Linked DNA regions of Homo sapiens. The protein of the gene in region 4 interacts with the protein of the main gene of each other region in a pairwise test. Each region holds a gene or a part of one and is shown on either strand. Other genes may lie near its edges. The genes, in order: MECP2, A2M, JPH3 and RAB38.

What was found.
Region 1: the proteins of RAB38 (region 4) and MECP2 interact in binary tests that used the Homo sapiens proteins (3 or more experiments, as listed by UniProt).
Region 2: the proteins of RAB38 (region 4) and A2M interact in binary tests that used the Homo sapiens proteins (3 or more experiments, as listed by UniProt).
Region 3: the proteins of RAB38 (region 4) and JPH3 interact in binary tests that used the Homo sapiens proteins (3 or more experiments, as listed by UniProt).

The regions. Positions count from the first base shown.
Region 1 is NC_000023.11:154,024,694-154,031,717, reverse strand, and holds part of MECP2 (methyl-CpG-binding protein 2), read left to right. Parts: intron 1-264; exon of another isoform or gene 265-267; coding exon 268-1,351; 3' UTR 1,352-7,024. UniProt on the Homo sapiens protein: Chromosomal protein that binds to methylated DNA. It can bind specifically to a single methyl-CpG pair. It is not influenced by sequences flanking the methyl-CpGs.
Region 2 is NC_000012.12:9,098,909-9,105,932, reverse strand, and holds part of A2M (alpha-2-macroglobulin isoform a precursor), read left to right. Parts: intron 1-1,532; coding exon 1,533-1,694; intron 1,695-4,258; coding exon 4,259-4,486; intron 4,487-4,725; coding exon 4,726-4,789; intron 4,790-6,409; coding exon 6,410-6,552; intron 6,553-7,024. UniProt on the Homo sapiens protein: Is able to inhibit all four classes of proteinases by a unique 'trapping' mechanism. This protein has a peptide stretch, called the 'bait region' which contains specific cleavage sites for different proteinases.
Region 3 is NC_000016.10:87,689,499-87,696,522, forward strand, and holds part of JPH3 (junctophilin-3), read left to right. Parts: intron 1-147; coding exon 148-1,028; intron 1,029-5,138; exon of another isoform or gene 5,139-6,643; intron 6,644-7,024. UniProt on the Homo sapiens protein: Junctophilins contribute to the formation of junctional membrane complexes (JMCs) which link the plasma membrane with the endoplasmic or sarcoplasmic reticulum in excitable cells.
Region 4 is NC_000011.10:88,172,425-88,179,902, reverse strand, and holds the start of RAB38 (ras-related protein Rab-38), read left to right. Parts: upstream 1-4,459; 5' UTR 4,460-4,518; coding exon 4,519-4,720; intron 4,721-7,478. UniProt on the Homo sapiens protein: The small GTPases Rab are key regulators of intracellular membrane trafficking, from the formation of transport vesicles to their fusion with membranes.

The DNA.
Region 1 (7,024 bases), on a different chromosome or scaffold from region 4:
CAGCAGAATGGGCCTCAGCCTGACAACCCTTCTGTACCAGGCCTGACTCTTTGGTTGCTGAACTTTGGAGAGGCCTGGGGGGGTCAGCGGCAGGCAGACGAGTGAGTGGCTTTGGTGACAGGTCCTCAGGGGCAGCCAGGCAGTGTGACTCTCGTTCAATAGTAACGTTTGTCAGAGCGTTGTCACCACCATCCGCTCTGCCCTATCTCTGACATTGCTATGGAGAGCCTCTAATTGTTCCTTGTGTCTTTCTGTTTGTCCCCACAGTCCCCAGGGAAAAGCCTTTCGCTCTAAAGTGGAGTTGATTGCGTACTTCGAAAAGGTAGGCGACACATCCCTGGACCCTAATGATTTTGACTTCACGGTAACTGGGAGAGGGAGCCCCTCCCGGCGAGAGCAGAAACCACCTAAGAAGCCCAAATCTCCCAAAGCTCCAGGAACTGGCAGAGGCCGGGGACGCCCCAAAGGGAGCGGCACCACGAGACCCAAGGCGGCCACGTCAGAGGGTGTGCAGGTGAAAAGGGTCCTGGAGAAAAGTCCTGGGAAGCTCCTTGTCAAGATGCCTTTTCAAACTTCGCCAGGGGGCAAGGCTGAGGGGGGTGGGGCCACCACATCCACCCAGGTCATGGTGATCAAACGCCCCGGCAGGAAGCGAAAAGCTGAGGCCGACCCTCAGGCCATTCCCAAGAAACGGGGCCGAAAGCCGGGGAGTGTGGTGGCAGCCGCTGCCGCCGAGGCCAAAAAGAAAGCCGTGAAGGAGTCTTCTATCCGATCTGTGCAGGAGACCGTACTCCCCATCAAGAAGCGCAAGACCCGGGAGACGGTCAGCATCGAGGTCAAGGAAGTGGTGAAGCCCCTGCTGGTGTCCACCCTCGGTGAGAAGAGCGGGAAAGGACTGAAGACCTGTAAGAGCCCTGGGCGGAAAAGCAAGGAGAGCAGCCCCAAGGGGCGCAGCAGCAGCGCCTCCTCACCCCCCAAGAAGGAGCACCACCACCATCACCACCACTCAGAGTCCCCAAAGGCCCCCGTGCCACTGCTCCCACCCCTGCCCCCACCTCCACCTGAGCCCGAGAGCTCCGAGGACCCCACCAGCCCCCCTGAGCCCCAGGACTTGAGCAGCAGCGTCTGCAAAGAGGAGAAGATGCCCAGAGGAGGCTCACTGGAGAGCGACGGCTGCCCCAAGGAGCCAGCTAAGACTCAGCCCGCGGTTGCCACCGCCGCCACGGCCGCAGAAAAGTACAAACACCGAGGGGAGGGAGAGCGCAAAGACATTGTTTCATCCTCCATGCCAAGGCCAAACAGAGAGGAGCCTGTGGACAGCCGGACGCCCGTGACCGAGAGAGTTAGCTGACTTTACACGGAGCGGATTGCAAAGCAAACCAACAAGAATAAAGGCAGCTGTTGTCTCTTCTCCTTATGGGTAGGGCTCTGACAAAGCTTCCCGATTAACTGAAATAAAAAATATTTTTTTTTCTTTCAGTAAACTTAGAGTTTCGTGGCTTCAGGGTGGGAGTAGTTGGAGCATTGGGGATGTTTTTCTTACCGACAAGCACAGTCAGGTTGAAGACCTAACCAGGGCCAGAAGTAGCTTTGCACTTTTCTAAACTAGGCTCCTTCAACAAGGCTTGCTGCAGATACTACTGACCAGACAAGCTGTTGACCAGGCACCTCCCCTCCCGCCCAAACCTTTCCCCCATGTGGTCGTTAGAGACAGAGCGACAGAGCAGTTGAGAGGACACTCCCGTTTTCGGTGCCATCAGTGCCCCGTCTACAGCTCCCCCAGCTCCCCCCACCTCCCCCACTCCCAACCACGTTGGGACAGGGAGGTGTGAGGCAGGAGAGACAGTTGGATTCTTTAGAGAAGATGGATATGACCAGTGGCTATGGCCTGTGCGATCCCACCCGTGGTGGCTCAAGTCTGGCCCCACACCAGCCCCAATCCAAAACTGGCAAGGACGCTTCACAGGACAGGAAAGTGGCACCTGTCTGCTCCAGCTCTGGCATGGCTAGGAGGGGGGAGTCCCTTGAACTACTGGGTGTAGACTGGCCTGAACCACAGGAGAGGATGGCCCAGGGTGAGGTGGCATGGTCCATTCTCAAGGGACGTCCTCCAACGGGTGGCGCTAGAGGCCATGGAGGCAGTAGGACAAGGTGCAGGCAGGCTGGCCTGGGGTCAGGCCGGGCAGAGCACAGCGGGGTGAGAGGGATTCCTAATCACTCAGAGCAGTCTGTGACTTAGTGGACAGGGGAGGGGGCAAAGGGGGAGGAGAAGAAAATGTTCTTCCAGTTACTTTCCAATTCTCCTTTAGGGACAGCTTAGAATTATTTGCACTATTGAGTCTTCATGTTCCCACTTCAAAACAAACAGATGCTCTGAGAGCAAACTGGCTTGAATTGGTGACATTTAGTCCCTCAAGCCACCAGATGTGACAGTGTTGAGAACTACCTGGATTTGTATATATACCTGCGCTTGTTTTAAAGTGGGCTCAGCACATAGGGTTCCCACGAAGCTCCGAAACTCTAAGTGTTTGCTGCAATTTTATAAGGACTTCCTGATTGGTTTCTCTTCTCCCCTTCCATTTCTGCCTTTTGTTCATTTCATCCTTTCACTTCTTTCCCTTCCTCCATCCTCCTCCTTCCTAGTTCATCCCTTCTCTTCCAGGCAGCCGCGGTGCCCAACCACACTTGTCGGCTCCAGTCCCCAGAACTCTGCCTGCCCTTTGTCCTCCTGCTGCCAGTACCAGCCCCACCCTGTTTTGAGCCCTGAGGAGGCCTTGGGCTCTGCTGAGTCCGACCTGGCCTGTCTGTGAAGAGCAAGAGAGCAGCAAGGTCTTGCTCTCCTAGGTAGCCCCCTCTTCCCTGGTAAGAAAAAGCAAAAGGCATTTCCCACCCTGAACAACGAGCCTTTTCACCCTTCTACTCTAGAGAAGTGGACTGGAGGAGCTGGGCCCGATTTGGTAGTTGAGGAAAGCACAGAGGCCTCCTGTGGCCTGCCAGTCATCGAGTGGCCCAACAGGGGCTCCATGCCAGCCGACCTTGACCTCACTCAGAAGTCCAGAGTCTAGCGTAGTGCAGCAGGGCAGTAGCGGTACCAATGCAGAACTCCCAAGACCCGAGCTGGGACCAGTACCTGGGTCCCCAGCCCTTCCTCTGCTCCCCCTTTTCCCTCGGAGTTCTTCTTGAATGGCAATGTTTTGCTTTTGCTCGATGCAGACAGGGGGCCAGAACACCACACATTTCACTGTCTGTCTGGTCCATAGCTGTGGTGTAGGGGCTTAGAGGCATGGGCTTGCTGTGGGTTTTTAATTGATCAGTTTTCATGTGGGATCCCATCTTTTTAACCTCTGTTCAGGAAGTCCTTATCTAGCTGCATATCTTCATCATATTGGTATATCCTTTTCTGTGTTTACAGAGATGTCTCTTATATCTAAATCTGTCCAACTGAGAAGTACCTTATCAAAGTAGCAAATGAGACAGCAGTCTTATGCTTCCAGAAACACCCACAGGCATGTCCCATGTGAGCTGCTGCCATGAACTGTCAAGTGTGTGTTGTCTTGTGTATTTCAGTTATTGTCCCTGGCTTCCTTACTATGGTGTAATCATGAAGGAGTGAAACATCATAGAAACTGTCTAGCACTTCCTTGCCAGTCTTTAGTGATCAGGAACCATAGTTGACAGTTCCAATCAGTAGCTTAAGAAAAAACCGTGTTTGTCTCTTCTGGAATGGTTAGAAGTGAGGGAGTTTGCCCCGTTCTGTTTGTAGAGTCTCATAGTTGGACTTTCTAGCATATATGTGTCCATTTCCTTATGCTGTAAAAGCAAGTCCTGCAACCAAACTCCCATCAGCCCAATCCCTGATCCCTGATCCCTTCCACCTGCTCTGCTGATGACCCCCCCAGCTTCACTTCTGACTCTTCCCCAGGAAGGGAAGGGGGGTCAGAAGAGAGGGTGAGTCCTCCAGAACTCTTCCTCCAAGGACAGAAGGCTCCTGCCCCCATAGTGGCCTCGAACTCCTGGCACTACCAAAGGACACTTATCCACGAGAGCGCAGCATCCGACCAGGTTGTCACTGAGAAGATGTTTATTTTGGTCAGTTGGGTTTTTATGTATTATACTTAGTCAAATGTAATGTGGCTTCTGGAATCATTGTCCAGAGCTGCTTCCCCGTCACCTGGGCGTCATCTGGTCCTGGTAAGAGGAGTGCGTGGCCCACCAGGCCCCCCTGTCACCCATGACAGTTCATTCAGGGCCGATGGGGCAGTCGTGGTTGGGAACACAGCATTTCAAGCGTCACTTTATTTCATTCGGGCCCCACCTGCAGCTCCCTCAAAGAGGCAGTTGCCCAGCCTCTTTCCCTTCCAGTTTATTCCAGAGCTGCCAGTGGGGCCTGAGGCTCCTTAGGGTTTTCTCTCTATTTCCCCCTTTCTTCCTCATTCCCTCGTCTTTCCCAAAGGCATCACGAGTCAGTCGCCTTTCAGCAGGCAGCCTTGGCGGTTTATCGCCCTGGCAGGCAGGGGCCCTGCAGCTCTCATGCTGCCCCTGCCTTGGGGTCAGGTTGACAGGAGGTTGGAGGGAAAGCCTTAAGCTGCAGGATTCTCACCAGCTGTGTCCGGCCCAGTTTTGGGGTGTGACCTCAATTTCAATTTTGTCTGTACTTGAACATTATGAAGATGGGGGCCTCTTTCAGTGAATTTGTGAACAGCAGAATTGACCGACAGCTTTCCAGTACCCATGGGGCTAGGTCATTAAGGCCACATCCACAGTCTCCCCCACCCTTGTTCCAGTTGTTAGTTACTACCTCCTCTCCTGACAATACTGTATGTCGTCGAGCTCCCCCCAGGTCTACCCCTCCCGGCCCTGCCTGCTGGTGGGCTTGTCATAGCCAGTGGGATTGCCGGTCTTGACAGCTCAGTGAGCTGGAGATACTTGGTCACAGCCAGGCGCTAGCACAGCTCCCTTCTGTTGATGCTGTATTCCCATATCAAAAGACACAGGGGACACCCAGAAACGCCACATCCCCCAATCCATCAGTGCCAAACTAGCCAACGGCCCCAGCTTCTCAGCTCGCTGGATGGCGGAAGCTGCTACTCGTGAGCGCCAGTGCGGGTGCAGACAATCTTCTGTTGGGTGGCATCATTCCAGGCCCGAAGCATGAACAGTGCACCTGGGACAGGGAGCAGCCCCAAATTGTCACCTGCTTCTCTGCCCAGCTTTTCATTGCTGTGACAGTGATGGCGAAAGAGGGTAATAACCAGACACAAACTGCCAAGTTGGGTGGAGAAAGGAGTTTCTTTAGCTGACAGAATCTCTGAATTTTAAATCACTTAGTAAGCGGCTCAAGCCCAGGAGGGAGCAGAGGGATACGAGCGGAGTCCCCTGCGCGGGACCATCTGGAATTGGTTTAGCCCAAGTGGAGCCTGACAGCCAGAACTCTGTGTCCCCCGTCTAACCACAGCTCCTTTTCCAGAGCATTCCAGTCAGGCTCTCTGGGCTGACTGGGCCAGGGGAGGTTACAGGTACCAGTTCTTTAAGAAGATCTTTGGGCATATACATTTTTAGCCTGTGTCATTGCCCCAAATGGATTCCTGTTTCAAGTTCACACCTGCAGATTCTAGGACCTGTGTCCTAGACTTCAGGGAGTCAGCTGTTTCTAGAGTTCCTACCATGGAGTGGGTCTGGAGGACCTGCCCGGTGGGGGGGCAGAGCCCTGCTCCCTCCGGGTCTTCCTACTCTTCTCTCTGCTCTGACGGGATTTGTTGATTCTCTCCATTTTGGTGTCTTTCTCTTTTAGATATTGTATCAATCTTTAGAAAAGGCATAGTCTACTTGTTATAAATCGTTAGGATACTGCCTCCCCCAGGGTCTAAAATTACATATTAGAGGGGAAAAGCTGAACACTGAAGTCAGTTCTCAACAATTTAGAAGGAAAACCTAGAAAACATTTGGCAGAAAATTACATTTCGATGTTTTTGAATGAATACGAGCAAGCTTTTACAACAGTGCTGATCTAAAAATACTTAGCACTTGGCCTGAGATGCCTGGTGAGCATTACAGGCAAGGGGAATCTGGAGGTAGCCGACCTGAGGACATGGCTTCTGAACCTGTCTTTTGGGAGTGGTATGGAAGGTGGAGCGTTCACCAGTGACCTGGAAGGCCCAGCACCACCCTCCTTCCCACTCTTCTCATCTTGACAGAGCCTGCCCCAGCGCTGACGTGTCAGGAAAACACCCAGGGAACTAGGAAGGCACTTCTGCCTGAGGGGCAGCCTGCCTTGCCCACTCCTGCTCTGCTCGCCTCGGATCAGCTGAGCCTTCTGAGCTGGCCTCTCACTGCCTCCCCAAGGCCCCCTGCCTGCCCTGTCAGGAGGCAGAAGGAAGCAGGTGTGAGGGCAGTGCAAGGAGGGAGCACAACCCCCAGCTCCCGCTCCGGGCTCCGACTTGTGCACAGGCAGAGCCCAGACCCTGGAGGAAATCCTACCTTTGAATTCAAGAACATTTGGGGAATTTGGAAATCTCTTTGCCCCCAAACCCCCATTCTGTCCTACCTTTAATCAGGTCCTGCTCAGCAGTGAGAGCAGATGAGGTGAAAAGGCCAAGAGGTTTGGCTCCTGCCCACTGATAGCCCCTCTCCCCGCAGTGTTTGTGTGTCAAGTGGCAAAGCTGTTCTTCCTGGTGACCCTGATTATATCCAGTAACACATAGACTGTGCGCATAGGCCTGCTTTGTCTCCTCTATCCTGGGCTTTTGTTTTGCTTTTTAGTTTTGCTTTTAGTTTTTCTGTCCCTTTTATTTAACGCACCGACTAGACACACAAAGCAGTTGAATTTTTATATATATATCTGTATATTGCACAATTATAAACTCATTTTGCTTGTGGCTCCACACACACAAAAAAAGACCTGTTAAAATTATACCTGTTGCTTAATTACAATATTTCTGATAACCATAGCATAGGACAAGGGAAAATAAAAAAAGAAAAAAAAGAAAAAAAAACGACAAATCTGTCTGCTGGTCACTTCTTCTGT
Region 2 (7,024 bases), on a different chromosome or scaffold from region 4:
TTTACCAGGCAGTCTCAGGTTTTTATGACATTTTCTCACAAGAATCTCAAAATTCATGCTGACCAGTTTCATTACGATGCTAACACTAACTTTGTATGGAAACAGGTGGGTAGGTGGTTTTAATTTTTATTTTGAAGTATTAAAGATTCTACAATAATGTTTATTTCATGGATAGTATATTTACACTATTTTTCTATAACAAGTATATTTCTAAAACAGTGAACATGGGGTAAAACACTGCTATTTAAGGTTCTCAGATTTTTGAATTATGAATTTTCATGTTATCTACCAAAAAAATCTTCTCTTACAATTTTTCTGTTGTCAGCAGATGTGCAAATGGATCTTTATGACTCTAGAAGTCTGAGATCACAGTTACATGTGCCTCAATGTGTATTTACTGTGTATCATTTTCTTAATGTAAATGTTACAGGATTTCAGCTATGAAGGGTGTAAAAGAGGCATAGACTCAACAAAGTGGAGTACATTCTAGAAGGCTTGGTTATGTCATGACACCAAAATGTATTCAACTTCCTAAAATGAAAGTGTAGCTCATTTGTAAATTTCTCAGAAAGATAGTGTACTTTGTAAGTACATTTTATTGCTGTTAAATATCCTATTTGTCATAAGACTCTCTAGCTAGAAGAAAATCAGAATTATGTGCCTATTCTTGTCTTTGTACATGCAGCCAACATTTCACTGGCAAACTTAGATTTTGTAAATCAATTATGAGTACTGATGGGGGTCAGCCTATTGTTCTTCCTGCTACCAACTGTAGCTTATACTGAAAAAGAATTGCCACCTTTACAATCTGAACTGGACTACTCAACTGCCAATACAATATTAGCAGTAAATTAGATTTGGCAACTTATTTAATACTGTGTGCCTCTTTTCAATTTTATATTTTTCACATGGGAAGTGTGTCATAAAATCTGCCTACCTTCCAAAAGGCTGAAGATCTAGGTTGAGAAGCAGAGACCATGTCTAAGGCAACTGGAGAAACACACAGGACAATGTATTGGCAATTGTTTACTTGTGCACTTATGAGACTTCAGACACTAATCTATAGGAAGTTAATGGTCCACTCCAAAATAGGTGTTTGGGGCACAAATAAATTTAGTTAATAGATTAATAGATTAAAATATTTCATTATCATATTACTCTAGTGCTCTGTGACTCTCTAAGAGTTATATATAATAATACACAGCACTTCCAAAATATCTAGAAGACATTTTTCAGGTCACTCTTGTTATTATCCCTATCACTCTCTATCCCTTCACACTGCTCTGTTTTTCTTCTTAGGATTGATTACTACTAAATTAGTGTATGTTATGTATATATTTATTTAGCATCTATCTCTTTCACTAGACAGTAAGCTCTGTGATGGAAGAAACTTCGTTTTTTTTCACTGCTGTGTCCTCAGTGCCTGGAACCATGTTCAACATAGAGGAGGCACTAAAAAATGTGATAAATGAATATGTTTGGTGCCTATTAGTTATTACCAATATAACTAATCCACAGCTTTTAATCTTCAGGTGCGCCTAGTAGATGGGAAAGGCGTCCCTATACCAAATAAAGTCATATTCATCAGAGGAAATGAAGCAAACTATTACTCCAATGCTACCACGGATGAGCATGGCCTTGTACAGTTCTCTATCAACACCACCAATGTTATGGGTACCTCTCTTACTGTTAGGGTAAGTTTGGAAAGAAATTACCAATGACATGAAGTAGCCTTGGAAACAAGGTTGCAACCTAAGGGTGAGAAAATTTCCAAACTGTGTCTAGTTCTATGGAGAGAAAAAAACTAGCAATTAGAAACCGATTGAAGGTTAACTTTTTTAAAGTTTATGAAAAGAAGGCAGTATATTGTGATTAAAAGTGCGGGTTAGACTTTAGCAGTGTTGCTGGGAACGTAAAATGGCGGAGCCACTATGAAAAACAGTATAGTAGTTCCTGAAAAAATTAAAAAATAGAATTACCAAATGATCCAGTAATCCTACTTCTGGACATATATTCAAAAGAATCGAAAACGGGGTCTCAAAGAGCTATTTGCACACCCGTGTTCATAGCCGCACTATTCACAATAGCTGAGAGATCGAGGCTACCCAAATGTCCATCAAGGGATGAACAGGTAAACAAAATGTGGTATATAAATACAACAGAATATTATGCAGCCTGAGAAGGGAAGAAAATCCTGTCACATGCTACAGCATGAATGATCCTTGAGGACGTTATGGTAAGTGAAATAAGCTAGTCACAAAAAGACCAATACTGTATGATTCACGTACATGGGGTTTCTAAAGTAGTCAAAGTCATAGAAACAGAAAACAGGATGGTGGTTGCCAAGGGCTAGGGAAAGAGAGAAATGGGGAATTCCTCTTATTGGTATTCAGGTTTAGTTTTACAAGATGAAAAGTTCTGGAGATCTGTTGCACAACAGATATACTTAATACTACCAAACTGTACACTAAAGAATAATGAAGATGGTAATTTTATGTTGTGTGTGTGTGTGTGTTTATAATAACTTTTTTGAAAAGTGTGAATTCCAGAATCTGAATCAGATAAAGTGGTTAAAAATACTGGCTCAACCCTATTTTAAGGAATTAACTAAAACCTCTGTGCTTCATTTCCTTATCTGTAAAATGATTGCAATACTAACACCTGACTCTTGGGGTGGTTGTGAAGATTAAGTGAAATCATACATGTTGAATCACTTAGTAAGCCCCCTTTAACTGTTAGATACTTTTACTATAAAAGCCAATTCTAACATAATTAGCATTTAGTTTTAAATATATATACTCCAAAAATTATTACCTTACTTTATTTTGTCTTGCTATTCTAATTTTCTCCAGATGACCTGTTCATACCAATATAAGTTATTCGGTATAGCATGCAGTCCTCTATTCATCAAGAGAGATGTAGACATGTCTATAGATACATGGATATACAATACATATTTAATATATATTACATAATCATGGTAATGGAAAACGCCTGCCTCTTTAGAGTTTTACCTTGTTATAGAGAAATAAATAATACATTTTATTTATTTAGCTTTAATAGATGGCATAAAAGCACCTCCCTCTAATTTGAATGTTTACTCATTTCAAAAAGTGTCTTGAATGCTTTCCACGTGCCAGCACTGTGCTAGTCTTGACAATGAAATTATTATTTCTACCTGTTCCCTGTTTGGGGTGATCATATATGTGTTGTCACCAAAATATACATTAAGATATGAACAAAATGTTTTGCTCAAGGATTCACTAGTGCTATTGGGAGCTGGGGATGAAGGTAGAGGAAGCCTGAAAGGAGCTAAGGAATAACTTCTACAGGAAGAAAAGTTGGAAATATAACCCAAATAGGGCCTCTGAGGTATTAGAATCCAGATTGCAGGGAGCATTAAAAATAGTCAGCCTAGGCCAGGCACGGTAGCTCACGCCTGTAATCCCAGCACTTTGGGAGGCTGAGGTGGGTGGATTGCGTGAGGCCAGGAGATCGAGACGAGCCTAGGCAACGTGGTGAAACCCTGTCTCTACAAAATATACAAAAAATTAGCTGGGTGGGGTGGCATGCACCTGTAGTCCTAGCAACTCAGGAGGCTGACTGGGAGGATCACTTGAGCCCCAGAGGCAGAGATTGCACTGAGCCAAGATTGTGCCACTGTACTCCAGCATGGGCGCCAGAGCAAAACCCTGTCTCAAAAAAATAATAATAATAGCAATCAGCCTAAGATAGCCCAGAAGAGGTAGACTTCAGCTAATTCATCAGCTCAGCTCTTAAACCAATGCTTTCTACCAATGTCTTCTCAGACCCCTAAGGTTACAATATTTTATTTATTCATAATACCCATTCAAAATCCACCCTAAAAGAGGCAGCTGCTTTCTGAAAGCACAGTTCTTCCATTTCTAGAGATTATTTACTCTCCTCAATGAAGTTTCATAGCTCCAGTGTCTCTAATTGCACAGGTAAAGCAGTCAAAGAAATTTCAAGCAAGCTAATCAGAGCAAAGGATGCCTCCTTTTATGCTCTTAAGAAATATAAATCTCAATCCCAGGAGGCTCTGCAGTGTAAAGTCACAAAGCATGCCTACATTTGAAGCAGAGAAACAAAATCAGGGGTCCTTCTCCCACTTTTCATTGTGGAACAAAAGATTTCTAGCTACTAGTTAAGGTAGGACAGTAAACTTACGTAGTTTTGTGAGAACATTAATCTTTATGACGTATAATCTAAAAATAATATAATTTTTCTAATTCATTAGGTCAATTACAAGGATCGTAGTCCCTGTTACGGCTACCAGTGGGTGTCAGAAGAACACGAAGAGGCACATCACACTGCTTATCTTGTGTTCTCCCCAAGCAAGAGCTTTGTCCACCTTGAGCCCATGTCTCATGAACTACCCTGTGGCCATACTCAGACAGTCCAGGCACATTATATTCTGAATGGAGGCACCCTGCTGGGGCTGAAGAAGCTCTCCTTCTATTATCTGGTGAGAAGGGAGGTTACTGCGTTGACTTCACTGTAGACAAAAGCTCTCTGTGGAGCAAGTAATCATGAAGCTCTTTAGATGTCATTACTTCAACTTCTTATCCATGTTCCTTTTGAAAGTTTGATTTCTCTTGAGGTGAATTATTGCCGGCAGGGACTCAATAAAACAAGTATATTGAAGTGAGACTGAAGCGTGTTCTCTCTGGCACATTTAATTTCTTTTTATTTCCTTTTTTGCAGATAATGGCAAAGGGAGGCATTGTCCGAACTGGGACTCATGGACTGCTTGTGAAGCAGGAAGACAGTGAGTATTTCCATCATCTCTGCATTGCTGCCCCATTCTGACCCATTCAGCCTTACACCACGGAAGTATCAGAATACTTTCCCTTTTTTTCCATAGGTTTTTGGGGGAACAGGTGGTGTTTGGTCACATGAATGAATAAATTCTTTGGTAGTGATTTCCGAGATTTTGGTGCACCCATCACCCGAGCAGTATACATTGTACCCAATTTGCAGTCTTTTATCCCTCACCCCCTTCCACCCTTCCCCCTGAATCCACAAAGTCCATTGTATCATTCTTATGCCTTTGCATCCTCATAACTTAGCTCCCACTTCCTAATAGCTTAGCTGCCACTTCCTAATAGCTTAGCTCCTACTTCTGAGTGAGAAGATATGATGTTTGGTTTTCCATTCCTGAGCTGGGAATATCAGGAATACTTTCAAGTAACGAGAGACCATTTCCATCTAATATTAATTAAAAGAAAGTTGAGGGAGGGAAAACAATAATGGTTTTTTTCTCACCCTTTATCAAATATGTGTTGTCTTTTTTTTCAGCCTATTTTCTTTGCGTTATTTAAAATATTGGTGTGGGCCAGCTATGATGGCTTACGCCTGTAATCCCAGTACTTTGGGAGAACGGGATGGGAGGATCTCTTGAGGTCAGGAGTTTGAGACCAGCCTGGTCAACATAGTGAGACCCCATCTCTATAAAAGTAAATAAATAAATAAATAAATAAATAAGAACAAAGGGGGAAAAATAAAATACATAAAATATTGTTGTGTATAATCTATGCTTATTCCAGATTTTTAAACCATAAATATTCTTGAACCTCTTCTCAAAATGAGAATTGTGTTAGAGAATGGGGTGGAGAAAATGTACGATTTCAAGGTATGTTGTATATACCAGGTCTTGTGCTGAGTCATTTATGTCATTTATATTATTATAAATATCTTTTTTCCCTTTCAAGATAGTTATGATTTATGAAGCATTAAATTGGGTACTTCTACCGACTGAAGCGGACTCTTGCCATGAGCAAATATGTCATAATATAAACCTTTGAAGGTTGCTCCTAGTCTAGTAGACTCTAAAAGATAACTTGCTAGAAAAGTATCAGTAATCTACTCTCTCATTAGTTCTTGTAGCAACACAGAAGCACCATAGCAGACTGAAGGAAACTTAATGCAACCTCTAAAGAATCTACATAGGCATCAAAAAATAACTTCTGAAGGAGCATGGTGTTCCTCTTATGGAGAAAGAACCAAATATTGGCTCATAGAAGGTTAAAGAGCATGTAGCATGAATACAATGTGTTGAACTCTTACTCTTACATCTCATAACTTCAGGTTCTATTTCCCTCTTCTAGTATGAGGCCTAGATCAAATGGTAGTGAATTGGATGTCTTCATACCCTTAACTAGCATCAGAACATTAGGTGGGTGAGCTGAAGCTTAAAGCTGGTGAAAAATCAACAGAGTATATGATTTATGAGAGGAGAGAGGGCTTTGATAGGGTTTTTTTCTAAAGCTAGAGTCCTTAGAGGTAATCATCCATTTGTTACATCTACTGTTTATTATGTCTGTTACATCTACTAATGGAAATAGTCATTAACCTATGATGGCTTCCTCTCATTCTCTTTGTGCCCCAGTGAAGGGCCATTTTTCCATCTCAATCCCTGTGAAGTCAGACATTGCTCCTGTCGCTCGGTTGCTCATCTATGCTGTTTTACCTACCGGGGACGTGATTGGGGATTCTGCAAAATATGATGTTGAAAATTGTCTGGCCAACAAGGTGTGTGTTTTAGATCATAAAATCTTCAACATGTAAAACTAGAAGTTACTATTGTTATCATTTGTTTTACACATGTGAACATTAGGGCCAAAAGGGTTAAACAAATTCCCCAGAGACATTCAGCAAGGTAGTGGCAGAGTCACACTAAGAAGCAGAATCACTTGATTCCTTATACAAAACTCTCAAACTTCTCCTAGCAGTGCCTCTTACCAATTACACAGTTCAGAGTATGTTATTCCCTTCTTCTATGATGAAACGTTGGGAAATATGTAAGCAAGTTTTTAAGACTACTAAGGAGCCAAAAGAAAAATGCAAGAGCACCTAGACCCATGCATGTCCCACCACAATTAATGAGCACCTTGCCGTGTATCAAAGATAAAAATGGCATTTCATGACTAGTAATTTATAAGAATAATTAGAAATAATTCTACTGGCTCAAGTGATTCTTGAGAATGAAAGAGAAGTGTAGGGA
Region 3 (7,024 bases), on a different chromosome or scaffold from region 4:
TCCCCTCCCTTGCCTGCAGCCTTTCGGTGAGTGGGAAGCGCCTCTGCTGCCCTGAGGTTCCCTCTGGCGCCCTGGCCCGGGGACCGCGGCCTCGCTGTGGAATGTGCTGGGTAACGCCGTCTGGCGTCGTCTTGTGTCCCCATACAGGGCTGGAGTACCAGAGGCCGAAGCGTCAGACCTCCTGTGACGACATCGAGGTGCTGTCCACCGGGACACCCCTGCAGCAGGAGAGCCCCGAGCTGTACCGCAAGGGCACCACTCCCTCCGACCTGACCCCCGACGACAGCCCCCTGCAGAGCTTCCCCACCAGCCCCGCGGCCACCCCGCCGCCCGCGCCCGCCGCCAGGAACAAGGTCGCCCACTTCTCGAGGCAGGTGTCGGTGGACGAGGAGCGGGGCGGGGACATCCAGATGCTCCTGGAGGGCCGGGCCGGGGACTGCGCCCGCAGCAGCTGGGGCGAGGAGCAGGCCGGGGGCTCCAGGGGTGTCCGCAGCGGTGCCCTGCGCGGCGGCCTGCTCGTGGATGACTTCCGCACCCGAGGTTCGGGCCGCAAGCAGCCCGGGAACCCCAAGCCGCGGGAGCGGCGGACGGAGTCACCCCCCGTGTTCACGTGGACTTCCCACCACCGGGCCAGCAACCACAGCCCCGGAGGCTCCAGGCTGCTGGAGCTGCAGGAGGAGAAGCTGAGCAACTACCGGATGGAGATGAAACCCTTGCTGAGGATGGAGACGCATCCCCAGAAAAGACGCTACAGCAAGGGCGGCGCCTGCCGGGGCTTGGGGGACGACCACCGCCCCGAGGACCGGGGCTTCGGGGTGCAGAGACTGCGGTCCAAGGCCCAGAACAAGGAGAACTTCAGGCCGGCCTCCTCCGCGGAGCCCGCCGTGCAGAAACTGGCGAGCCTGCGGCTGGGCGGGGCCGAGCCCCGGTTGCTGCGTTGGGACTTGACCTTCTCCCCGCCCCAGAAATCCTTGCCTGTCGCTCTAGAGTCCGACGAGGAGAATGGGGATGAGCTCAAGTCCAGTACGGTGAGTGGGCGGCCACCAGGCTGGTCCCAGTGGAGGCAACATCCACCTCTCTGCTGACCTGGTGTTTCCTGAGGGTTTCCAGCAAGGTCACTGCTCCCCTGTTCCTCTCCAGGGGTGGAGTAGGGTGGGGGTACAGCCGGGAGTGGTGGCCCTCAGGTCGCTGGGACCCTCCCCTAGGAAGCCAGGTGGGGCAGGTGTCATACCTCTTTCCGTGAGAGGCTGCCCCCAGGTTGTCCAGAAAGCACACGAAACTCCTGGTTTCCAGGCAGCATGGGATCCCTGCGCTCCCCGCAACGTGCTCAACCCCAGCTGCTCCAAGAGTCTGTGCCCCTGGTCAGTAGCCTTGGGCCGTGAGATGACCGCTTGAGTGTCCTGTGTCCTGGATAGGAACCCAGAGGCGAAACAGCTGGGGGCAAGGCTGGCCCTGGGGCTGGGAGTCAGGTCTGGGGTTGGGGGGAGCTGCCAGTCCAGGTTTCTCTCACCCATGGGGGGTGTTGGGGTTGGAGCCGGCTCCCACGTGAGGCCCGCTGTGTGCAACTCACCGTCAGCCTCACCCAGCACCCCCCCCCCAAATTCGTTCCTCCAGGGCAGGCAGCTTGGAGGGAAGAACAGCGTCCCCCTGGGCTAGACTCGGCGCGAGGCTGGGGGTCCCAGGCTAGACTCGGTGTGCGAGGCTGGGGGTCCTGGTGCCTCACACAGGGCTGGCCTCCCCTTGAAGGGACCTTCACTCTGCAAATCCCACCCTGCTCCCTTGACCAGTGCTGCAGGAATGAAGGGCTTTGGGAATGAAGGGCTGTGGGACGGTGGCTACATAGGATCTGCGCACGGCCAGGCCCTCACCCCAGCAGGGCTCTGCTCGCTCGTGGCTGCCAGGCAGTGCGTGGTGCTGAACAGAAGTGCTGCAAGCCAGTCTGCCCCTCGGGTGTGAGGACGCAGGGGGGTGTCCGCAGGGGGCGCTCAGGGCGTGTGGGCCGGGCAGGGGGGACCATTGGTAGGTTTATTGTCGACGCTGCGGCAGGGGTCGGTGTCTGTCCCTGCCCCTGACCTAGGGGAGCTGTGGTTTTCTCCTCCTGCCAGCCCCACCCCCAGAGGGGTCACCGCGTGACACCCCTTTGAAGGGGCACGTCCTGCCGGGCGGCAATGCCTGTTTCTGCCTCTCCTTGGAACCACTGCGGACGTCTGTCTGTCCTGTTGGGTTCCTAAGATGCCTCCCCGTTCCCCAAAGCCCACAGAGAACAGCCCCTATGCTCCTGCTGGGACCAAAATACCAGCTCACACTTACAACTTGATTTTCCCCATCGCAGCCGGAGATGTGTGCGTGGCTGTGCGCGCGCGGTTATTTTAGGAACAGCCAAGCAGTGGGCAGGGTGGGAGGTGTAGGGACGGGTTCTATTTTTAGCCTGCTTAATGCACTGACACTTTTGGGTGCTTTTAAATGAACCTCCCTGGGGGTCAATGCACAAGCTGGGGACAAGTGCCAAGCTGGCCTCTGGGATGAGTTAGCGACACGCAGGGTGCTACATGCTGCCCTGGTCCTGCCCGGTCTCCAGCTGGGGCTAATCTGGAGGTCCCGTCAGCTGCAGCATCATGTCCCACCCACCCTGGAGGATGCCAGCTGAGCTCCTTGGAAGTGGCCACCCTGGGGTACCTGGTGCTGGTGCAAACAAGGTTTCCCTCCCTGTCTCCCTCCCCGTCTCCCTCCCCACAGCTTTGGAGCTGTGTTTTCTGCCAGGTCTGTGAGGGGAGATGGTGTGTAGAGGCGCGGTCAATCCTAAGCACTGTTCCAGGCCCTGTTGGTGGGAAGCAGGAGGGGCCCGTGCCAGCCGGCATCCATGTCAGGGGACAGGTGTCAGGGCAGTCGGGTGCCAGGCTGGGCTGAGTGCCTTCAGTGCCACCCCCTCACAGGGGTACAGCTCTCTGCAGTGTCTCCCCTGGGCCACCAGCAGGGTCTGGGGTGCTGTCTTCTGGCCATCCCCCTCCACCATTCCCAACATGCTGCAGAGCTCACACGCCAGAGGCCCTGGGTCCCACTGGCCACAGATGGGCCTGGGATTCTAGCCCACATAGGGTCCCACTGGCCACAGATGGGCCTGGGATTCTGGCCCGTGTAGGGCCCTGGCAATTCAGGGTAAAGTCCCTTAGGATGGAAGCACAGGTTCTCCCTACCGCTCTACTGGTGAAGGAACTCTGGCCCTGGCTGTTTCCCTCTTGGTGAAATGATGGATATGACCTGATGGTGGGGTCCAGGGTTGGAGGATGGCTGGGGAGACAGAAGCTTCCCTCCTGCGGGCAGCCACGCCCTCGCCCACAGCGTCCGTACCTGCTTCCCGGCCCAGAGCACGGGCTGGACTGTGGCAGAAGAGGTGCCACTGACCACCCCACTCTGTCCTGCTACCCCACTACAGGCTGACTAGCATCCGGCCCTTCCTCCTCGCTGGGGTGGGGGAACTTTGCACCAGGGGTGGCATCAGTGGGCAGGGCTGGGCCCTTGGCTGTTCTCTGCCCCCTGCAGGCTGGCCCGGCCCAACCAAGTTGTCATGGGGCCCAAGACTCACAATACACCTGCCTGAGGCCACGATGCCACGGAAAGCTGGGCTCAGGGCAGCTTGCTTTCTCTCTGGCTGAGTGGAGGCCCTTGCTGTGTCCACAACTCCACTTCCATCTGCGCCTCAGGTCCCTGATAGGCTGGGAGGTTGCGGAGGGTGTGGGCCTGGTGCTGCTGTGGCTGCAGGTGCCCCCTAGGCAGCACCTCACCCTCTGAGGACCCTCCTCTCTGAGCTGCATCCCAAGGACAGTTTACAAAGCCCTTTGCTGACTGGGGTTCAGCTTATCTGTTGAGCAAACTTTTTCTTTAAAAAGTTTCTTGGCCAGGCACGGTGGCTCACACCTATAATCCCAGCACTTTGAGAGGCCGAGGCAGGTGGATCACCTGAGGTTATCAGTTCGAGACCAGCCTGGCCACCAGGGTGAAATCCTGTCTCCACTTAAAAATACAAAAATTAGCCGGGCATGGTGGCACACGCCTGTAATTCCAGCTACTCAGGAGGCTGAGGCACAAGAATTTCCAGAACCCGCAGGAGGCAGAGGCTGCTGTGAACTGAGATCATGCCACTGCACTCCAGCCTGGGCAACAGAGCGAGACTCCATCTCAAAAGTTTCTCAAGCCAGTGTCTCTAGGGCCTGAGGGCTCCAATCCCCAGTGTGAGGTGAGGCGCTCGGGCCTGGGAGCTGATGCCCAGCATACAGTCGGGGGTGCCCCTGCCAGGTGTGGTGCAGAGCACGGCGGGGGTGTGTGAGACCTGAGGATAGCGTCTGGATGTTTCTCTCACGTTAACGGGAATGAGATAGGCTCATTGGCTGCTCATCCCCAAATCCAAATGGAAAACCGCCATTCGGGCCAGGCAGAGGCAAGTACTCCCACCCGTTGCCGCTGCCGTGTTGAGCCCACCGTGCCGAGTGGTGTTGGCAGGAGCCTCCCGAGGAAGCTGTGCCAACGCAGGAGTGGTCAGAGCCTGTCCAGGCCACAGACGGGGCTACGATGAGCACTGCTGCCCAGGGCATGTTGGGGGCAGCTCCTGGAGACCACAGGGAGGGGAGGTGGGCACCCAGGTGTGGGCAGAACTGGACCAGGAGGAGGAGGGGCAGCAGCTTGCTCAAGGCACAGGGCCTCAGCCACAGGGTGGCGGGCTGGGAAGGGGCGAGGGTGTGGTGGGTTCTGAGTGCCCCATGCAACGGCTGTTTTGGGCCACGTGCTCAAGCAGGCACCCAGGGAAGACCAGCCTAGGTGCTGGCGTGAGGCCCTTCAACATCAGCTACGATGCTGCTTCATCAGGAGCACAGCCTGGGGAAAGAATGAAACTGACCCAGGAGACAAAAGGGTCCCCGGGCCAGACGGTCAAGCAGGAGGCTGCTTCGCTGCCGCGGGATGTGGCATCCAGGCTAGGCAAGGGGACGGCAGGCTGCCATCCCCAGAGGGAGTTCTCCGGGCAAGGCCGTGACCCCACTGGGGCTCTGAGTTTGCATCCTTCCTGTGTGTCAAGAGCAGAGCCGGCCACTGCCAGCCCATAGCTCCCATGGTGCGGCCCTGGAGAGCTGACTTCATGCGGGATGTCTGCTGTTCTTTGCGTAGCTTTACTGAGACAGAAAGCGTGTACTGTTCACTTCAGGTGGCCACAGTGTACAAGTCAGGGATTTTAGTGTATTCCCAGTTATACAGCCATCACCCCCAATTCTATCTAGATCAGCTCCATCACCTTAAACCTCAGGGCCATTGAGCAGGCACTTGCTGTCCCCTCCTCCCCCAGCTCCCGGACTCTGCTTTCTGCCTGGTGCCCAGCTTCTCACGCAGCATGCACTGCTCCTGCGCTTTCTCTGTGGCAGCCGCGGTTGCACGGCCCATGTCTTCCCCGCTGTGTGTTCATCCTCCACTGGACAGCTGGCTCTGCTTCCACTCCGTGGCTGTTGTGAATCCTGCTGCCGGGAGTGTGTGCACACACAAGGTTTTGAGTGGAGGCTTGACTTTGCCCTCTTAGATTTAGGCCTGGGAGTGGAACTGCTGGGTCCCCGGTGTTCTCATCAATTCTCTTCCAGTCTCTGGGAGAGGAGCCAGCAGCAGCTGCTTCGTTGTGGGTGGGGGGAAGGGGGAGGCCCGTTGTTCGGGCTCCCCTCCTTAATGCAGGCCTGAGCAGCCCTCACCTGGTGCCACATGAGCTACTCAGTCTTAACAGACCACCCCATCATGTCTTTGAAATTTGACCAGAGGCCAGACTTGGGGGCTTAAAGGAGTCCATGGAAAACCAGTCTGTTAACAGGGAGGGGGAGGAGAGTAGCCATCCCTGAGGAATGTGCATCCTGGGACCTTCAGGACAAGCCCTGGTCCATCTGTGTCGCACAGCAGCAGGATGTCTGCGTGGTAGGAAGTGGAGGGCTCCGGGGGCTCTGAACAGCTCCTTACCACAGTGGGGTCTACATCTCCTTCCAGGTGGCTGCGAGATGCAGGGCGTGGTGGGGGTGGGGAGAGGCAGGGGCAAGTGTCCTCTGGAAGCAGACTGTGGGCAAGACTGGAGTGGGTGTCCCAGCCATTCCTGGGCTGGGGCCACCGTCCAGGAGGCGTCCATTCCCTGTGCAGCAGGTACTGTATCTGTAGGGCAGCACCCACCCCTGCCGTCCTGGGAGCTTCCCAGAGGGGCCACGCTCCCTCTCCCCCTGCCTGGTGTGAGCAGAACACAGCAGAGTGCAGGACTGCAAGAATCACTGCAGAAGGGCGCCCCCGGAAAAGGCTCTGTTGTGAGACGTGTCCTACCTGGCCCCGGCAAGCACAGGGAAGGTGGCAGCTTGGTCCGAGTGCCCAGGCTGTGCGGCTGAAGGGGGAGTCTGGCACTTGGGGCTCCGGCGGAGGCTGAGGACTTGTGAGCCACTTCAGGGAGGTGGTGGCAGCAGCATTCAGGACCATAACCTAAATCCAAGGCAGCTCGCAATTGGACACAGTCCTCCAGAGCCAGTTGGCGTGAGGGGTTTGTTGAGGAAGGTGTGGTGAGGGGGGGTTTTGTTGAGGACACTGTGCTCACGGACTTTGGGAGTCCTCTGAGTTCCAGGGCCTCTCTGCTGGGCTGCATCTGACACTGGCCATGGCAGCCATGCGGGCCCTTCTGAGATTCTGAGGTCCCAGTTCCACAGGGCAGGAGAAGCCTGCTGACTGGCACAAAGGCCACACGCACCGAGACGTTTGCTTGCAGGGAGGCCTGGGTGGTTCTCTCCAAGGGGACCCTGGGAGAGCTGGTACTCAGGGTGTCGGGGCCACAAGGGAATTCCAAGGGAATTCCAGGACCAGCAACCTCAGACGTACAGGCAGCTGGGGCTTCTCTCCCGCGTCTGGACTTCACGGAGCTCAGGTTCTGGTGGGCCTTTGGTGTCCAAGCGTTTCTAACATCCTCCCGTACGCTTCCACCCCCGAGGGTCTGCTAGCTTGGTGAAAAGACGTGGGTGGGAGGCGTGGT
Region 4 (7,478 bases):
CCCCTTTCACTCTCAAGAGTCATAGTTTGAATGATAAAATATATGGTCATTTCTTCCAGGCCTTTTGCAGAGTAAAATTCATCTGTTGTAAGATATATTTCTTGTATTAATCTAAGAAAAATTAGATTACCTTTTCTATAACAGAGCCCTTGGGACCCCATCTTGCAGTCATTTACATATTTCTTCAGAGCAATAATTAAAAGCTCACATAAGCTAATGAATAACTCCCCATGGCTCTCTTAATGGCAAAAGCAAATAATGTGACTTCACAGGGGCTCACCAAACACAGCAGCTCTAGGAGGAAAACATGAGGGTTTGTCCCTTCAAGTTTACATTTGCAAAGCAATTTGCAATCATTGTAGTTTTTCCATTTCATAAGACTAAGTACCCACATTGGACAGAAAGGGAATGGAGACTAAGAGAAACCTAATGCTGTGCCTTCTGGGATATCATTCTTGGCTTGAATTCTGAGCACTTTGTGGTCTCACACACCTTTTACAAACTTGAGTCATCAGCCTTCCCGACCTTGGTGAGAAGATGTGCTGTGGTTTAGCAATTTGAGGGTAGTAAGCTTGTCAAAACATCACCAGAGATGTTTTGAGAATTACTGTGGAGAACAGGTTTCCATGGTGCAGTGTGGCTGCTGGGAGGGGGACGAATGGCACAGCTGTTCTCTCCATGGGGAGGAAGCACTGGATCTTTTGTGTCAGAAAAAGCTGAGATCCTCCTGATAATCCTAAGCCATCTTGACAGGTATATGTTCAGGTTGGGGAAGATAGGTTCTGAAGAAGCATCATAATTGCAGGGGACAGGGTTGAATGAAAGAGGAGGCAAGAATGGTCTAGCTGCTTGATAATATCCTTTCCATCTATTCACTGTCTGGCTTGATCCAGTTTATAGTTTGTCCCTGGCTACCTGGCTCCCTGTCTGCAGCCTAGTTCTGAGTGTAGAAAATAAGTTCAAAGCAAGGAAGGGGAGTACATGAAGGTTTGTCCTCCAAAAAGAATGTTCTTGGATTGCCTTTGTCTTGTGGGAAAATGTACAGCAGCAGAGGAAAGAATAGCACCATGAAACCAGAGGAGAACTATGGCATCATGTTTGCTTTGAGATGGCCTTTCTTCCAAACCTAAAAGAGGAGAGAAAACATCACCTCTTTGGCAGTGGTGCTCTTGTGGGGTGACTAGAATCAGCTAGGGTGTCACTCCTACTAGACAATGTCTAGAAGACCCAGAATTCTGATATTTTAGAGTCCAAAGGACTTTCCAGAGATCTTGCAACCTAACTCCCTCATTTTACCCAAGGGACTTTCAGGTTCAGAGACCTAGGCGCCTTTTACGAAGATTTTACTGAACTGCTAGGCTGGGGTGCTTACCAAGCTACTGTAATCTAAAAGTCTTAAAAATATAAACCGAGAGTAATTTCTTCCCACTGTGAAGAATGATCATGAGACCTAAATGAGTACGGCTGGAAACAAAACTGCACATACTTCCTGCCTGGCCAAGGAACTTGCTCACCATGGTTGGCTGCTGTCCCTGAGAGAGGAATCTCCTACCCCCAGAGAGGCAATAAAACTGAAGCTTCAGGACCCCTTCCAAGGCCCTAGACCTAATTATATATTTTTGATTTTGCATTCTTTTGCTCAAAAAGCTACTTCCTCCAATTTTATCAGCTTCAGGACCAGAAATCCTGAACTTTGCCCTGCCTGTCCTACCTCATAAATCCAAATGTCTGATGTTCCAATATGCTCTTGCTCAAAAGAGAACAGATAAGGGTGAGGATGACTCTGCCGGGACCAGGCTTGGGAAAACAGTACGGGGCTGGTAAGAAAGTTGGGTTGGGTATAATTTTGAAGGCTGGCCCACAAGATGTCTCAAACTCCTACCTTGTTTCTACCCCAGGAGCTTGTTGGCCAGACAAAGCCTGTCTCTCAGATTTACAGACCCAGGATTTTAGAGCTGGCAAAGGTCTCATTTTGTCATCCTCCCTAATTTTGCAGGCATTTAGAATGGCTTAAGCATCTTGGGCTACTGAATTCCCCTCCCTGGGAAGTGAGGTGACATTGTTGGCTAATTCTTTAAGCAGGTAGAGTATTTGTCTCACTTGTTAGATGTGATCTTCTTGGTGTGTCCTCGCATGGGTGGAAACCAGTAAATGAGGCCTACCCAGCTAAGCACTTCAATAAAACACAAACGACTGCAATTCTACACACTGTCACTTAGTGTCCATTCTGAGCAAAACTTCTGAGTTACTCTCTGAGGAAAGATGAAACTGCACAGGACAGTGCCTGTGGACAGTATTTTAAGCTTGTCCCTCATTTCATAGTAATAGCTACAATTTATTTACCACCTACTATGGACCCAGCATTTTATCAACAATTTCATTTGTATTTATTTATTTATTTATTTATTTATTTATTTAGAGATAGAGTCTTGCTCAGGTTACCCAGGCTGGAGAGCAATGGTGTGATCTTGGCTCACTGCAACCTCTGCATCCCTGGTTCAAGATAGTCTCCTGTCTCAGCCTCTCAAGTAGCTGGGATTATAGTCACCTGCCACCACGCCCGGCTAATTTTTGTATTTTTAGTAGAGACGGGTTTCACCATGTTGGCCAGGCTGGTCTTGAACTCCTGACCTCAAGTGATTCACCCACCTCAGCCTCCCAAAGTGCTTGGATTACAATCATGAGCAACCATGCCCTGCCATAGGTATTATCATTCTCCTTTCGTTGATGTGGAAACCAAGGCTCAGAGGTTATGTGACTTGTCCCGGGTACACATCTTCAGCATCCCTCTGCTTGTTTGGGGCATGTGGAGGCTAAAGTTTAGGGAGTGTCAGGCCAGAAGAGGAAGGCAGAAAGACAATGGCCTTGCCAAACCTCCTTTCTCCCTTTCACACAGGCCTGTGTTTAAGTCCTAGTTCTAACACATACTAGTTATGTGTGCCCTTGAGAAAGCTGCTGTTAATCTTGGTTTCCTTATTTATAAATTGAAGAAAATAACCCACTTCATAAAGCAATTGAGAAGATGAAATGATAGAATGTGAGCAGAGCTCCTTCACAGCACATTCAGGTACAAAATAGCTCATTTTGGTATAAACTGCTCACCCCCTAGCCCTGAATGCCCAATTTCTCATTTTCTTTATGTCTTTACTAAATTGTCTCCATCTTACTGAAACCTTCCCTGGCCACCCTATCTAAAAGGCAAACCCCATATAATCTCTTCACATCCCCTTTCTGCCTTATTTTATTACCAATTAATATATGACAAATTGTATTTATTTTGTCTTGTCCTGTCTCCACCCACAAGAAGGTAAATTTTTCTTAGGCCAGTAGGCATTGTCTGCGTTAGGAGGATGATACAGAAATCCTAACGCAGACAATGCCTACTGGCCTCAAAAAAATTTACCTTCTTGTAGGTGGAGACAGACAAGACAAAATAAGTACAATTTGTCATATATTAATTGGTAATAAAATGTATATTGGTCAAATGAATGAAAACAAACAACAAAAACAACAAAAAGAAGTTGGGAACCTAAAGACCTATGTTTGAATTTGGTTTTTTTCCTTACTATTTGACTCTGGGTCCATTACTTAAAATGTCTGGTCCTTAGCTTCCTCATTTGTAAAATAGGAAGAAAAATGGTATCTATTATTAAGACAGCTGGGATGACTAAATGACATAATTTATAAACCCTCTGGCATATAGCGAGTGCTCAATAAATGTTTGCCATTATTATTATTTGTAATAATCTGACCGATTGTTAAAACTGTCTTTCTGTGCAGCTCTGAGTTTTTAGGATATGGGAAGAGGCTAAAAGTCACCAGTGCCCTTGGCATTTTCGGCCCAGTTGTCCTCCTTGTTAACTGATTACCAGTTGAATGGGTGTGAAAGTGCTCAGTGTTCCCACCTCCAAGCTGCTCAGAGGTCAGCATTGCCATTCATTGAGAAATAACAGGCTGTGAGAGCTCAAATGACTTACTTATGGTCCCTCAACTTAAAAACCAGGGCACGCAGGAACCAAGCCCAGCCAGTCTTGGGCTTCCTAATACTGTAATTTCTCTCTACAGTGTGGGGTAGTTAAGAGCCTGTGACTTCAGACCTGTGGTCAACGGGGCCTTTCACCGGCCATCTCCCGCAGAGTACTTTTTCACAATCAGTTTTCTCGCAAGCAAAACGTGGAAAATAAGATCCACACCTCACAAGTTTGTGGCCAGGGTCACAGGTGAAAACAGCTCTTCGGAAACTCTAAAGCGCCGGATAAATAAGCGCTGCAACAGGCAACCACACGCGAACCCCTTTCAGCTGCCAGTCCCGGGACTCGCTCCTGTCTCCTCCCCTCTCCAAGACCGCGGAGTAGGAAGGAGGATTAACCCCTAGGGGAGGAGTTCCGCCCCCCAGCCCCCGCCCCGCCGCCCACGCCTCTCTCTGCACCTACACTTGCGCTCCCCAAGTCTCTCTCGTGCGCAGAGCCCAGGCTGCGCTTCCCTGGTCAGGCACGGCACGTCTGGCCGGCCGCCAGGATGCAGGCCCCGCACAAGGAGCACCTGTACAAGTTGCTGGTGATTGGCGACCTGGGCGTGGGGAAGACCAGTATCATCAAGCGCTACGTGCACCAGAACTTCTCTTCGCACTACCGGGCCACAATCGGCGTGGACTTCGCGCTCAAGGTGCTCCACTGGGACCCGGAGACTGTGGTGCGCCTGCAGCTCTGGGATATCGCAGGTGAGCGCGGGGGGAGGGGGTCAGGGGGATAGAGCGCCTCGCGGCCGGTTTCCAGTCTCGAGGCAGCGGCTTGCGGCCAAGCGTGAGATTAAAATCACTAGGTCGCGAGGCAGTTTTTCCTGGTGGGCTGGAAACTTAGTTTCAAAGAAAAGAAAAACGTCTGAAACTTCAAGTGCATTCCCTGGCGCTTTTGGGCTATTGCTTTAGCTCCTTCCCGCACAGTCCCCTGGGATCTCTCTGCCCAGAGCAGGCCTCCCCAGGGAACCAGAGGAAGATTGTCTGCAATTGCATTCTGTTCTCCACTCCAGCTCGTTTTCTGGGCGCGGGCAGTTCTGCCAATGACGCAGCCCAGTGTCACGCACGTCCTTCCGTGCAGGGGCGGACCGAGGGGAAGCCCCTAGGCTGGTTCACAGAGGAAACCGGGATAGTTCCAGGCTAGCTGGAGTTTGCCCATTCCTGTCTTCAGTGGCTCACTTTATTTCAAATTTTGTCACCTTTCTCTCTGCCCTTAAGACAAAGGAGTTTGAGGGTTTTTGTTTTGTTTTTTTTTTTTTTTTTTTTTGCTTTTTGCTTACAGTAAGCCAAGTACTTTTGTGTGTATATGTCAGGGGCAAAGTATTCTTTCTCCCTCTCTTTCTGTATTTCTATCTCTCTGGCTCTCTGTCTTCTATGAAAAGGAGGTTGTGTGTATATTTTAAGGCCATTTTTATGTAAGGGCCTATGATAGCCTTATGATTTCTTGATTTGGCCCTAAAGTTTTCATTGAGAGATCTGAAAAATGAGAGGTTGTTTGTTTTTGTTTTTTACAATATTTAAAATCAGATTTTGACTCCACAGGTTTGTACCAGAAGTTAGGCCTAGTCAAAAGTGAGGGTGCAATGTATCTACTCCAAGTGTGAATCCTTGGACAAGGCTGTTTGCAACCTGCGCATGACCAACCCCTCATTACAGATTTTAGCCCTGCCACTAACTAACCTGCTCAGTGGCTTTGGACAAGTCTCTTCAGCTCAGTTGCATCGCTGTTAAGTGGAAAGGAGTTGGGCAAGGGTCAAGGATCTTCCTGCTCAGAAGTTTTAAAGTCCTCTGGGATTCTCCATGGGAACAACTTCAAACAGTCTTATTTCATGGTCTGTGACACCAGGAACCTTTCGTTATAAGTGCTGGACCCAAACTAGCCACTTCTGTTTCAGAAAATGGATTCATTTTAGCTGATGCATTTGATTGGAAACTCTTTATCATGGCTTGAAACTAGAACAAATGTGGAAAATTTTTGAAAGGGCATTTGTGATCTGGGGACTTTCGTGCCTCTTTAATCATGAACTGCCAGGCCTTTTTCTTTTAGCATGTGAACAGATGAACAGATTCATGCATTTGGAGTCATCTTCAGCTGCTCTAGTAGCAAGGGGGTTATCAGAGAACAGAAAATGTTATCAGCCACTGTTGGATGGGGCTTTTCATCTAAAAAAATTCTCTCTGTGTACTTTCTTGCTGCATGTCATAATGTCTGAAAACCCTTCTGGCTGCTCGAAAGTCCTCAGGATTCAGATTTAGAAACGGCTTACTGTTTAAACGGGGATGTAGCTGTAATTTGGACTTCTGTGTACAATCCAGGTAACAGCATGACAGCAGAGAAGTTCTATGTCTGTAGATTTCAGTCTCCTCACATAAACAGAAGAGATGGAAGGGTACAGTGATTAATAGCCCAAATTCCAGAGTTGAACTGCCTCCATCTGGATCCTTACTTTACTCTGCATGTAGTAGGCAATCTTAGGTAAGTTCTCTAACCTCCTTGTTTTGGTTTCCTTACTTGTAAACAGGGAGAATGCTTTCTCCCAATAGATGACAGGTGAGCAACCAACAGTGCTAGCTGAAGGTGATCATGCCTGTTCTCTAGGAGATCTGCAAGGATTATTATCACACTAGCTACCATTTTTTTAAGCCTATATAAATGCTAGGCAAGAAGGATATGATATACAAGTGCTTATTAATTCCTAATAAATTGTGATCCCAATATTACATATATATTTTGTCCCCAAGTTATCACCATTTTCAGCTTTGCTCCTGACATACTCTCAGGAGCAATTTAACTCCCAAGCTCGAAAGCACTTCGTTAGCCATGTTTTGTAGACTGAAGTTGCAGTGGAGGCTGTAGTCACAGAAGTCTGTATAAATAAGAAATCTGAAGTCTTGGGAAGTTCATTCTACAGATACTGCGGTGGTGTTACATTCAACATCTCAGTAGAGGAGCTTGTTTTTCCCAGAGCTCTAATGCTCAGTGGTAACCTGTCTTTAGCAGCCTTAAGCCCAAAGGCCCTGTTAGCTGAATTATAGATTGGACAGCAGGCACAGTGAATTGGGTGAAAGCTAGGCCACTGTAGGAAATGGTTGGAACATGCACGTGCTCCATGTTTCATGGTTTAAGCTGCATAGGGAGCCATGTGGGTTATGAGTTCATGTGAAATACAACCTCAACTGCCCACCCAGACTCCAGTCAGCCAGGTGTACCTTATAGTACTTTCAAATCACAGCCTGTCTGTCCACAGATAAGAATGCATCTCTCCGTCCTTAGTGTTCAACTCTGGTGTGTCCCCGGAGAGAGCAGGTAGTGGAGGTTAGTGGGCCTAGCTTTGAGAAGGTTGTGGGTGTTCAATGAGATAGAGAAGACCTGCACTGTTCTGATAGGATATCATATACATTTGTTATTAAGGGAATCTTGGCTCAGCTAGACTCTTGATACTCATTTGGTTCAATGCCAAAT